Regions from separate parts of the Homo sapiens genome. Here region 2 is linked to region 1. Evidence: fine-mapped expression QTL. A gene starts in region 1. The other region holds a variant in brackets. All regions are shown on one strand. Distances are from middle to middle. Region 1 holds the start of QNG1 (Q-nucleotide N-glycosylase 1). Region 2 has its middle 13 kb from the start of KIF27.

Evidence for each region. PIP is the estimated chance that this variant, and not a neighbour inherited with it, causes the effect.
Region 2: its variant is the best candidate, but not a certain one, in a credible set for the expression of QNG1 in blood mononuclear cells (TOPMed, PIP 0.65).

What each region holds. Positions count from the first base shown.
Region 1 is chr9:83,954,213-83,958,602 of GRCh38, reverse strand. QNG1 (Q-nucleotide N-glycosylase 1) reads left to right here and starts at 1,861. Exons shown (of 4, transcript NM_032307.5): 1 at 1,861-2,439; 2 at 2,963-3,222. The coding sequence starts at 2,103.
Region 2 is chr9:83,932,689-83,937,078 of GRCh38, reverse strand. No RefSeq gene overlaps it. Among named protein-coding and RNA genes, the nearest start is that of KIF27, 13 kb to the right of the region's middle. The variant G/T (reference allele first, on the strand shown) is at 2,055.

The DNA.
Region 1 (4,390 bases):
ATTTCCTTGCTAAATCAATTTGTCTCCCAAGACTTAGGTGCTGTGGTAGAAAGGAAAAATCCCAAGCCAACAGACTTACATTTCCTTAACAACTGTATTAATGTACTAGTGACTTTTTCTGGAAAACGTATCATAGTGGAGTCCTTAAAGTTCCTTTTTCTTACCAAAATGAAGAAACTGGAGTGATGAAGATCTGCTTTTCTAGGGTAACAGCTGTCAAATTTAAAAGCTCCATTTGGGGCCAGGTGTGGTGGCTCATGCCTGTAATCCCAGCATTTTGGGAGGCCAAGACAGGCGGATCACCTGAGGTCAGGAGTTCGAGATCAGCCTGGCCAACATGGTGAAAACCTGTCCCTACTAAAAATACAAAACTTAGCCGGGCGTGGTGGCGGGCACCTATAATCCCAGCTACTCGGGAGGCTAAGCCAGGAGAATTGCTTGAACCCAGGAGGCGGAGGTTGCAGTGAGCCGAGACTGTGCCACTGCATTCCAGCCTGGATGACAGAGTGAGACTCCGTCTCAAAAAAAAAGCTCCATTTGGGAGGCCGAGGAGGGTGGATTACCTGAGGTCAGGAGTTTGAGACCAGCCTGGCCCACATAGGGAAACCCCATCTCTACTAAAAATACAAAAATTAGTCAGGTGTGGTGGCTGACACCTATAATCCCAGCTACTTGGGAAGCTGAGGCAGGGAGAATCACTTGAACCGGGGAGGTGGAGGTTGCAGTGAGCTGAGATCATGCCACTGCACTCCAGCCTGGGCGACAGGGTGAGATTCTGTCTCAAACAAACAAATTTAAAAGCTCCGAATCCTCCAAAAATACCAAGATTTTCCTGTCGGTAACTAGAGATGGGTACTGATGATTATTTTTAATAGGTGATTTTCAAAGATGTGAACGTTATCCATGGAGATTTAAGTCTCCAAAAGGAAAAAAAATGCATACCTTTATACTAAAACTTCATCACCAGTCAAATTTGGATCATCACTAAATTGGCTTCTACACCTCTCTCCTAATATAAGGTACTTGTGTAAGTTTGCAGTTGTGAGACACTTATTTCCTCATTTTTAATGTCTTCTCAGTAGGGCCACTGATATAGTCACTATTTGACTGACCAGAATGGTTGGCACTGGTGATTGGCTCATAAAGTGCCCTCGATTTAGGGGGCTCAATTATCAAAGGTTTAAATCCTAGCCCAAACCATTGCTGTGATGGGGGTTAATCAATGAACCACTCAGCTTCACTTGCAAAAGCGGGATCACAATAGCCGCTTTCGTCATGACCCAGCCTAGGTGAGATTTAGTACTTAAGTACACTGCCAGGCACACAAGGTTAATTTAACAATTTAACACATTTGTTTCCTCATCCATTTCTCCAAACCTTCCAACTAATCCTAACGTTCGTTCGGCCAAATGGGCCAGGAATTCACTTAAACAAAAACAAAAAACAAAACAAACAAAAAAACACTCCCTGGGGCTTGGGGAAGGAGGCACCGCCGCCCATGTCGCAGTCTGGGGGTGGCTCAGTCCTCAGCACCCAGATCTACGGCCATAATGCTCTTCGAGGCCAAGGAGCCCGGATGCGGGGCGTTGCCGAAGGCGTCTTGCTCAGGCTGCGGGAAAGGAGAGGGGTGGGAGCGGGGTGGGGGCATCGCGACCCAGGGCAAGGCGGCGAGTCGCCGTCTTCGAGTCCCACCTGTCCGAAGCGGGGTGAGAAAAGGCAAAACATGGCAAAGCCATGCACCTCCCAGGGTGGGCAACTCACGGCCGGTGAACGCCGGACCCTTAGCAGTTTCCAGACCTTTGGAACCGGAAGCGGAGCCTGAGAGCGCGCCCGAGAGGGCGTGAACGGGACCGCTTTCCCGGAAGTGCTTGCGGCCTCTGCCCAGCGAGCTGCCCCGGGGTCTCTCTGGTTTCCTAATCAGGGCAACGCCGCGGGAGAGAACCTTTACCTTGGCTGCACTAAGTTCTCGGTGCCACTCCCTGGCAGGGCGGGACCTTGTTTAGGCCCTGTGATCGCGCGGTTCGTAGTAGCGCAAGGCGCAGAGTGGACCTTGACCCGCCTAGGGCGGGAAGAGTTTGGCCCGCCGGGTCCCAAAGGGCAGAATGGACGGGCTCCTAAATCCCAGGGAATCCTCTAAATTCATTGCAGAAAACAGTCGGGATGTGTTTATTGACAGCGGAGGCGTACGGAGGGTGGCAGAGCTGCTGCTGGCCAAGGCGGCGGGGCCAGAGCTGCGCGTGGAGGGGTGGAAAGCCCTTCATGAGCTGAACCCCAGGGCGGCCGACGAGGCCGCGGTCAACTGGGTGTTCGTGACAGACACGCTCAACTTCTCCTTTTGGTCGGAGCAGGACGAGCACAAGTGTGTGGTGAGGTACAGAGGGAAAACATACAGTGGGTACTGGTCCCTGTGCGCCGCCGTCAACAGAGCCCTCGACGAAGGTTGGTGCCATACTTGCCATCGGACCTAACGGCCTTTGAGGTTTCCATTTACTTGGGGTGTGTGTAGGGGAGTTCCAAGGAGCGGGTTGGGAGATGGAATAATGGAAAGCGAACCTGAAGTTCGTTGCAAGTCCTTATGCTTAAAATAGAAGTATGAAAAGGGGCATATTTTAGTGGAAAATGATGTTAATATTTATCATTGCAGCATAAAAGTTACAGTAGCATAAAAGTCAGTTTTATAAAGAATGCCATTTGAATGACACCTGAAGAACAAAAGGACCGATGTTATAAAGCAATTTACTCAGAATACATCTGATGTAATATTGCAATAGTTAGAAATGGGTGAATAAGTACAGATGAACAAGTAGAAAATGAGTTTTGCTTTAGATTTTTTATTCTTCCACTTTTGGTGCATTCCTATACCACTCATTTGGTTTCATATTAATTCCATGTTGTAAAAGCAAGGGTTTAATGCATATGGAAGTATGACATTGGTCCTCTGAATTTTATTTTTTCACTAAAGGGATACCAATAACTAGTGCCTCGTACTACGCGACAGTGACCCTGGATCAGGTTCGGAATATACTTCGTTCTGACACAGACGTTTCCATGCCTTTAGTAGAAGAGAGGCATCGGATTCTCAATGAAACCGGGAAAATTCTGCTGGAGAAGTTTGGAGGCTCTTTTCTCAACTGCGTCCGAGAAAGTGAGAATAGTGCGCAGAAGTTAATGCACCTGGTGGTTGAAAGTTTTCCTTCTTACAGAGATGTGACTCTGTTTGAGGTGAGTTGCTTCTGTTGGGGATTTTAGAAGTCTTAATCATCTCAGAGTTAACTCTTTTACTTCCAGAACTCATTTTAAGAATAAAAACTTAAATTTTTAAATGTATTCCTTGTGGAAGAAACTAACAAAATCAAGTAGTGTTTCAAAGTCATTTCTTATGTTTTCTTTTGTTTGTTTGTTTGAGACAGAGTTTTGCTCTTGTTGCGCAGGCTGGAGTGCAGTGGCGTGATCTTGGCTCACCGCAACCTCTGCCTCCCGGGTTCAAGCGATTCTCCTGCCTCAGCCTCCCGAGTAGCTTGGATTACAGGGATGCGCCACCAAGCCCGGCTAATTTTATGTATTTTTAGTAGAGACGGGGTTTCACTATGTTGGCCAGGCTGGTCTCAAACTCCCGACCTCAGGTAATCTGGTCGCCTCAGCCTCCCAAAGTGTTGTGATTACAGGCGTGAACCACCACGCTGGCGTCATTTCTTTCCTTTTTTTTTTTTTTTTTTTTTTTTTGAGATGGACTCTTACTCTGTCACCCAGGCTAGAGTGCAGTGGCGCGATCTTGGCTCACTGCAAACTCCGCCTCCCGGGTTCAGGTGATTCACCTGCCTCAGTCTCCCGACTAGCTGGGATTACAGGTGCCCGCCACTGCGCTAGGCTAATTTTTGTATTTTTAGTAGAGACGGGGTTTCACCATGTTGGCCAGGCTGGTCTTGAATTCCTGACCTCGTGATCCACCCACCTCGGTCTCCCAAAGTGCTGGGATTACAGGCGTGAGCCACTGTGCCGGGCCTTTTTTTTTTCTTTCCCTGAGATGGAGTCTTGCTCTGACTCCCAGGCTGGAGTGCAGTGGCACTATCTCAGCTCACTGCAACCTCCGCCTCCCGGGTTCAAGCGATTCTCCTGCCTTTGCCTCCTGAGTAGCTGGGACTACAGGCGCATGCCACCACACCTGGCTAAGTTTTTTTGTATTTTTAGTAGAGATGGAGTTTCATCTCATTTCTTATGTTTTCTAATCAATATTTCATTCTTTACTTCCTTTTTTTTCCTTTTAAAATGTTTCAAACCTAAAAAACATGGAACCCTCCATGTAATGTTCTCCTTATGGAAAATTAAGTATTTTTAGTACTTCAAGAAGGTTACTTTATTGGTTGAAGATCAGAATGTATACTAACCTCTC
Region 2 (4,390 bases), 22 kb after region 1:
CCCAGACCCAGCTGCCTTTTCTCTTCTGCCACTGAGCATAACCTGGAATCAATCCTGGATGCCTGCATTCTAATCTAGCCAGCAGGATTGAAGCAATAAAGAAGAGTAGAAAGAAAGGGTTGAAGCCAGGTGCAGTGGCTCGCTCCTATGGTCCCAGCCACTGTGTGGTGGGGAGGAACTGAGGTAGGAGGATCCCTTGAACGTAGGAGTTCATGTCCAGCCTGGGCAATGTAGCGAGATCCAGTCTCTTAAAAAAAAATAAGGAAGAAACAAAAAGAGTTGACAAGAAAGGCTCTAGTAGCCACCACATTCCATTTTGGTTTCATCTTACTAGAATTTAGTCACGTGACCACAACTAACTGCCAAGAAGGCTAGGAAAGTGGCATGTATTATGGGCATTGGATACCAGCTAAACTGTGTAGAGAGTATGGATGGGCCTGGGCACAATGGCTCATTCCTATAATCCCAGCACTTTGGGAAGCCAAAGGCGGGATGATCGCTTGAGCCCAGGAGGTCGAGGCTGCAGTGAGCAATGATCACCACTGCACTTCAACCTGGGCAACAGAGTGAGACCCAGTCTCGAGAAAAAAAAAAAGTATGGGTGGATACTGGGAAACAGCAAGAAGTTTTTGCCACCCATTAAGTGGATTTTATAGTTTTCTTACCTGATACAGACTAAGAGCATTAAAATAACATTTTGCCTAATGGCTTTAACAGCCATGGATGATTATTTTTCAGATCTATTATTTCATTAGGGATTGCAAAATGGTAGTGTTCTAGTTCTAACATTTTTGGTTTTTGGGGATTTGTGTGGAGATAACATCCCTCTTGGATTTCAGGGTAGTCTGGGGGAACATAATTAACATGGGGCTAGCTCCTGACGTTCCAGAAGAGAATGGAATGTAGAATTAAGTTCTGAAAGTGTTTTCAGTTGTGTTGATTCATTCTGCACACCCTTTTAAAGGTAATGAAAATGTGCACAGCCTCCTGAAACTCCCTGGCACAGTCCTCCATTCAGAGAAGTCTTTTCTAATTCTTTGGTGACTCAGTTTCCTTTAGTAGCCTTTGATTTGCCATCAGTTATAAAATATTTTGTTTTGTAAACAAATTTCAATTATTTTTCTTCAGAGGCCTCCTAATGATTTGCCTCACTCTATGAACTCAAGTTGTTTAGCCAAGGCACCTTGTCAATGCTTTCCAACCAAAGTAAACAGGTTAGATTTATTACTTGTAGCATGGGGTGACTCAGTAGGAGGATTATTTGGGGCAGGGTCTAAGGAAACTGTTCTGTTGAGATTGGATACTCTCAGAAAGCAGGATCAGTTATACTATTGGCTGCTCTACCATTGACTGCCTCAAATTTTTTCTATAGGGAGGGCAGACAAGAGTAAGGATAAAGCTGTCATTGGTAAAGAAGTCAGCAGTCACTCATTTTAGTGGAGATAGGATGTTTGGGTACTTTGTACGGCACGATGCCCTTGTATTTTTCTGTGGTTAGGCAAAATTCTGAAGTGGCCTTATTTAGTCTTACTTTATCATGGTCTCTGAGTAACCTTTCTGATCCAGTCTCTAAAAAAAAAAAAAAAGAAAGAAAGAAAGAAAAAAACAAAGGGTTGACAAGAAAGGCTTTGGTAGCCACCACATTCCACTTTGGTTTCATCTTACTAGGATTTAGTCACGTGACCACAACTAACTGCCAAGAAGGCTAGGAAAGTGATTATGTCCAACAGAAGACTAACTGGTATAGCTGTGGGTGCCAGGCCAGCTTTTTATCAGGGGCTGCTTTTTTTCCTTTATCAACCTTAAACTTCTCCCTAATTAGCACCAAGGCAAATTAATAGATTTTGTTTCATTCAATTCAGAAATCATGTATTGAGCTTCCTCACAGTGTCCCCTCCCCTGAAGCTGAATGGATAATGGCTTAGTCAGGCTGGCACCCCAGTCTGCCCCAGATGCGGATTTAATGACTGTATATGACCTAGGGGATCAGCTTTGAGGCAACTAGACCTTCCTTTTCCTTGCAACTCTGTGACCCGTCTTTCTCGAGGTGTGCT[G/T]TTTTTTGCTTTAGTTTAAAATTTCCAGCTTTTTGGTGGGTGCTATAGTCAAATACAAAACCTAAACAAGTAAGGGAATTGATCTATTCAGGCTATTACAATAGGAAAAGCACTCCAAATCCAAAGATCAGAGTCTCTTGGCAGGGTGGTTTTGCCTTAGACTTTTATAGAGAGGAGTATACAAGTTACAGGTGGAGGACTTACATGTGGGATTGTTTTGCAATCAGAAGTCTCAGTCAGTTGCCAAACAGGAAATATTTATCTCTGTGTCATGCTGGTTTTAGGTGGACAAAGAGTTCTAATAGAGAGACAAAGAATGAGGAATTGGGCTGAGCATGGTGATGCACATCTGTAATCCCACCACTTTGAGAGGCCCACACAGGAGGATTACTTGAGCCCAGGTGTTCAAGACCAGCCTAGGCAACATAGCAAGACCCCGTCTCTACGGAAAAAAAAAAAAAAATTGTAAAAAAGAATGAGGAATTGAAGGGTCTGTGTCTGGTCTTGTCCCACTGGGATGGGATAATCTCATGGGATACCATATACTATGGTGTATGCAGTTCATGGGTGACCAAATCATTGTTATGTGATGCATGCCTGTAATTTGTAAAATTCCTTGCAGGTATACAATTTATTGATTAAACAATTGGAAGTTTGGAGAAATATATTATTGTGCCATTCATCTAAATTTCTCTTTTTTCCATACACTGTGTATCTTTTCCTTTCTTTTATCCCTTTGGGTTAAGGATGTTTTAGTTTTAAATGAAATAAATCAAACTAAAACTAGCATAGTGAAAAAGCAATTGTAGTGATCAACAAAATAAGCCCAGGGATAGAGCTGGCTTTAGCCATGATCATGTAACTAGTTACAGTCTAGGGATTAAAATGCACAAAGACCATACCTCATATTTCTTTTCTTTTCTTTCTTTTTTTTTTGAGATGGAATGTCACTCTTGTTGCCCAAGCTGGAGTGCAATGGTACGATCTTGGCTGAGATCAGGAGAATCACTTGAACCTGGGAGACAGAGGTTGCAGCAAGCTGAGATTGCATCATTGCACTCCAGCACTCCAGCCTGCGCAATAGAGCCAGACTATGTCTCAAAAGAAAAAAAAAAAAGGAAAAGGAAAAGAAAGCACTAATCCAACTTCCTGTCTGGAGACAGGACAAACCTAGGAATTCTCTCCCTTTCTTCGCCATTCCCATTTTGCCACTCTCAAGATAGACTAAGAGTCAGTTGATATAGAATACTAACCTGTATTTGGTTGCAGGAGTAGAATGCAATTATTAAGGCTCAACAGCTTTGTTCCTTTTTTAAAAAAACATAAACATGTTGCTTTGGCCGGGCGTGGTGGCTCACGCCTGTAATCCCAGCACTTTGGGAGGCCGAGGCAGGAGGATCACAAGGTCAGGAGATCAAGACCATCCTGGCTAACACGGTGAAACCTGTCTCTACTAAAAATACAAAAAATTAGCTGGGCGTGGTGGCGGGCACCTGTAGTCCCAGCTACTTGTGAGGTTGAGGCAGGAGAATGGCGTGAACCTGGGAGGCAGAGCTTGCAGTGAGCCGAGATTGCGCCACTGCACTCCAGACTGGGTGACAAAGCGAGACTCCATCTCAAAAAAAAAAAAAGTGTTGCTTTGTTTTTTAGAGGCAGCGTCTCACTCTGTCACCTAAGCTGGAGTGCAGTGGTTTGATCACTGCTCACTGCAGCCTCAACCTCCTGGGCTCAAGCAATTCCCCCACCTCAATCTCCCAAGTAGCTGGGATTACAGGCGTGCACCACCATGCCTGGCTAATTTTTATTTTTTGTAGAGATAGAGTCTCACTAGGTTGCCCAGGCTGGTCTCGAACTCCTGACCTCAAGTAATCCTCCTGCCTCAGCCTCCCAAAGCATGAGCCATTGTGCCCAGCCAAGGCTCAATAACTTTGACGAAGCCTGAGTCAAAGTGAGAAGAAACAAATAGGTCACAATGGTATTTAGAGAGAAGCCTAGAAATACTTTGAGAACCAAAAATAGTATTTTGAAAGCAAGTAAAAAAATATAAAAAAAACTATGAGTTCATAGTTACCCTCCTTCTACCACACACGTGCTCCAAAAAAAGAAACCGTATTGTTTGATTTTGAAGGTTGGTAGGGACCAATTTGTAATTCTGAAAATTGGTAAATAAAAAGGAAAAAAGCATTTATTCTGTTATTCCTGTACTAACTGCATTTCAGGATAATCTGATAGAGGAAAAGCTCTTCTTTATAGAACAATACCAGCTAATAAATGCAAAAAGGAATATTAGAACATTACCATTGTGCAATCCCTAACGAAATAATAGATATGGGAAA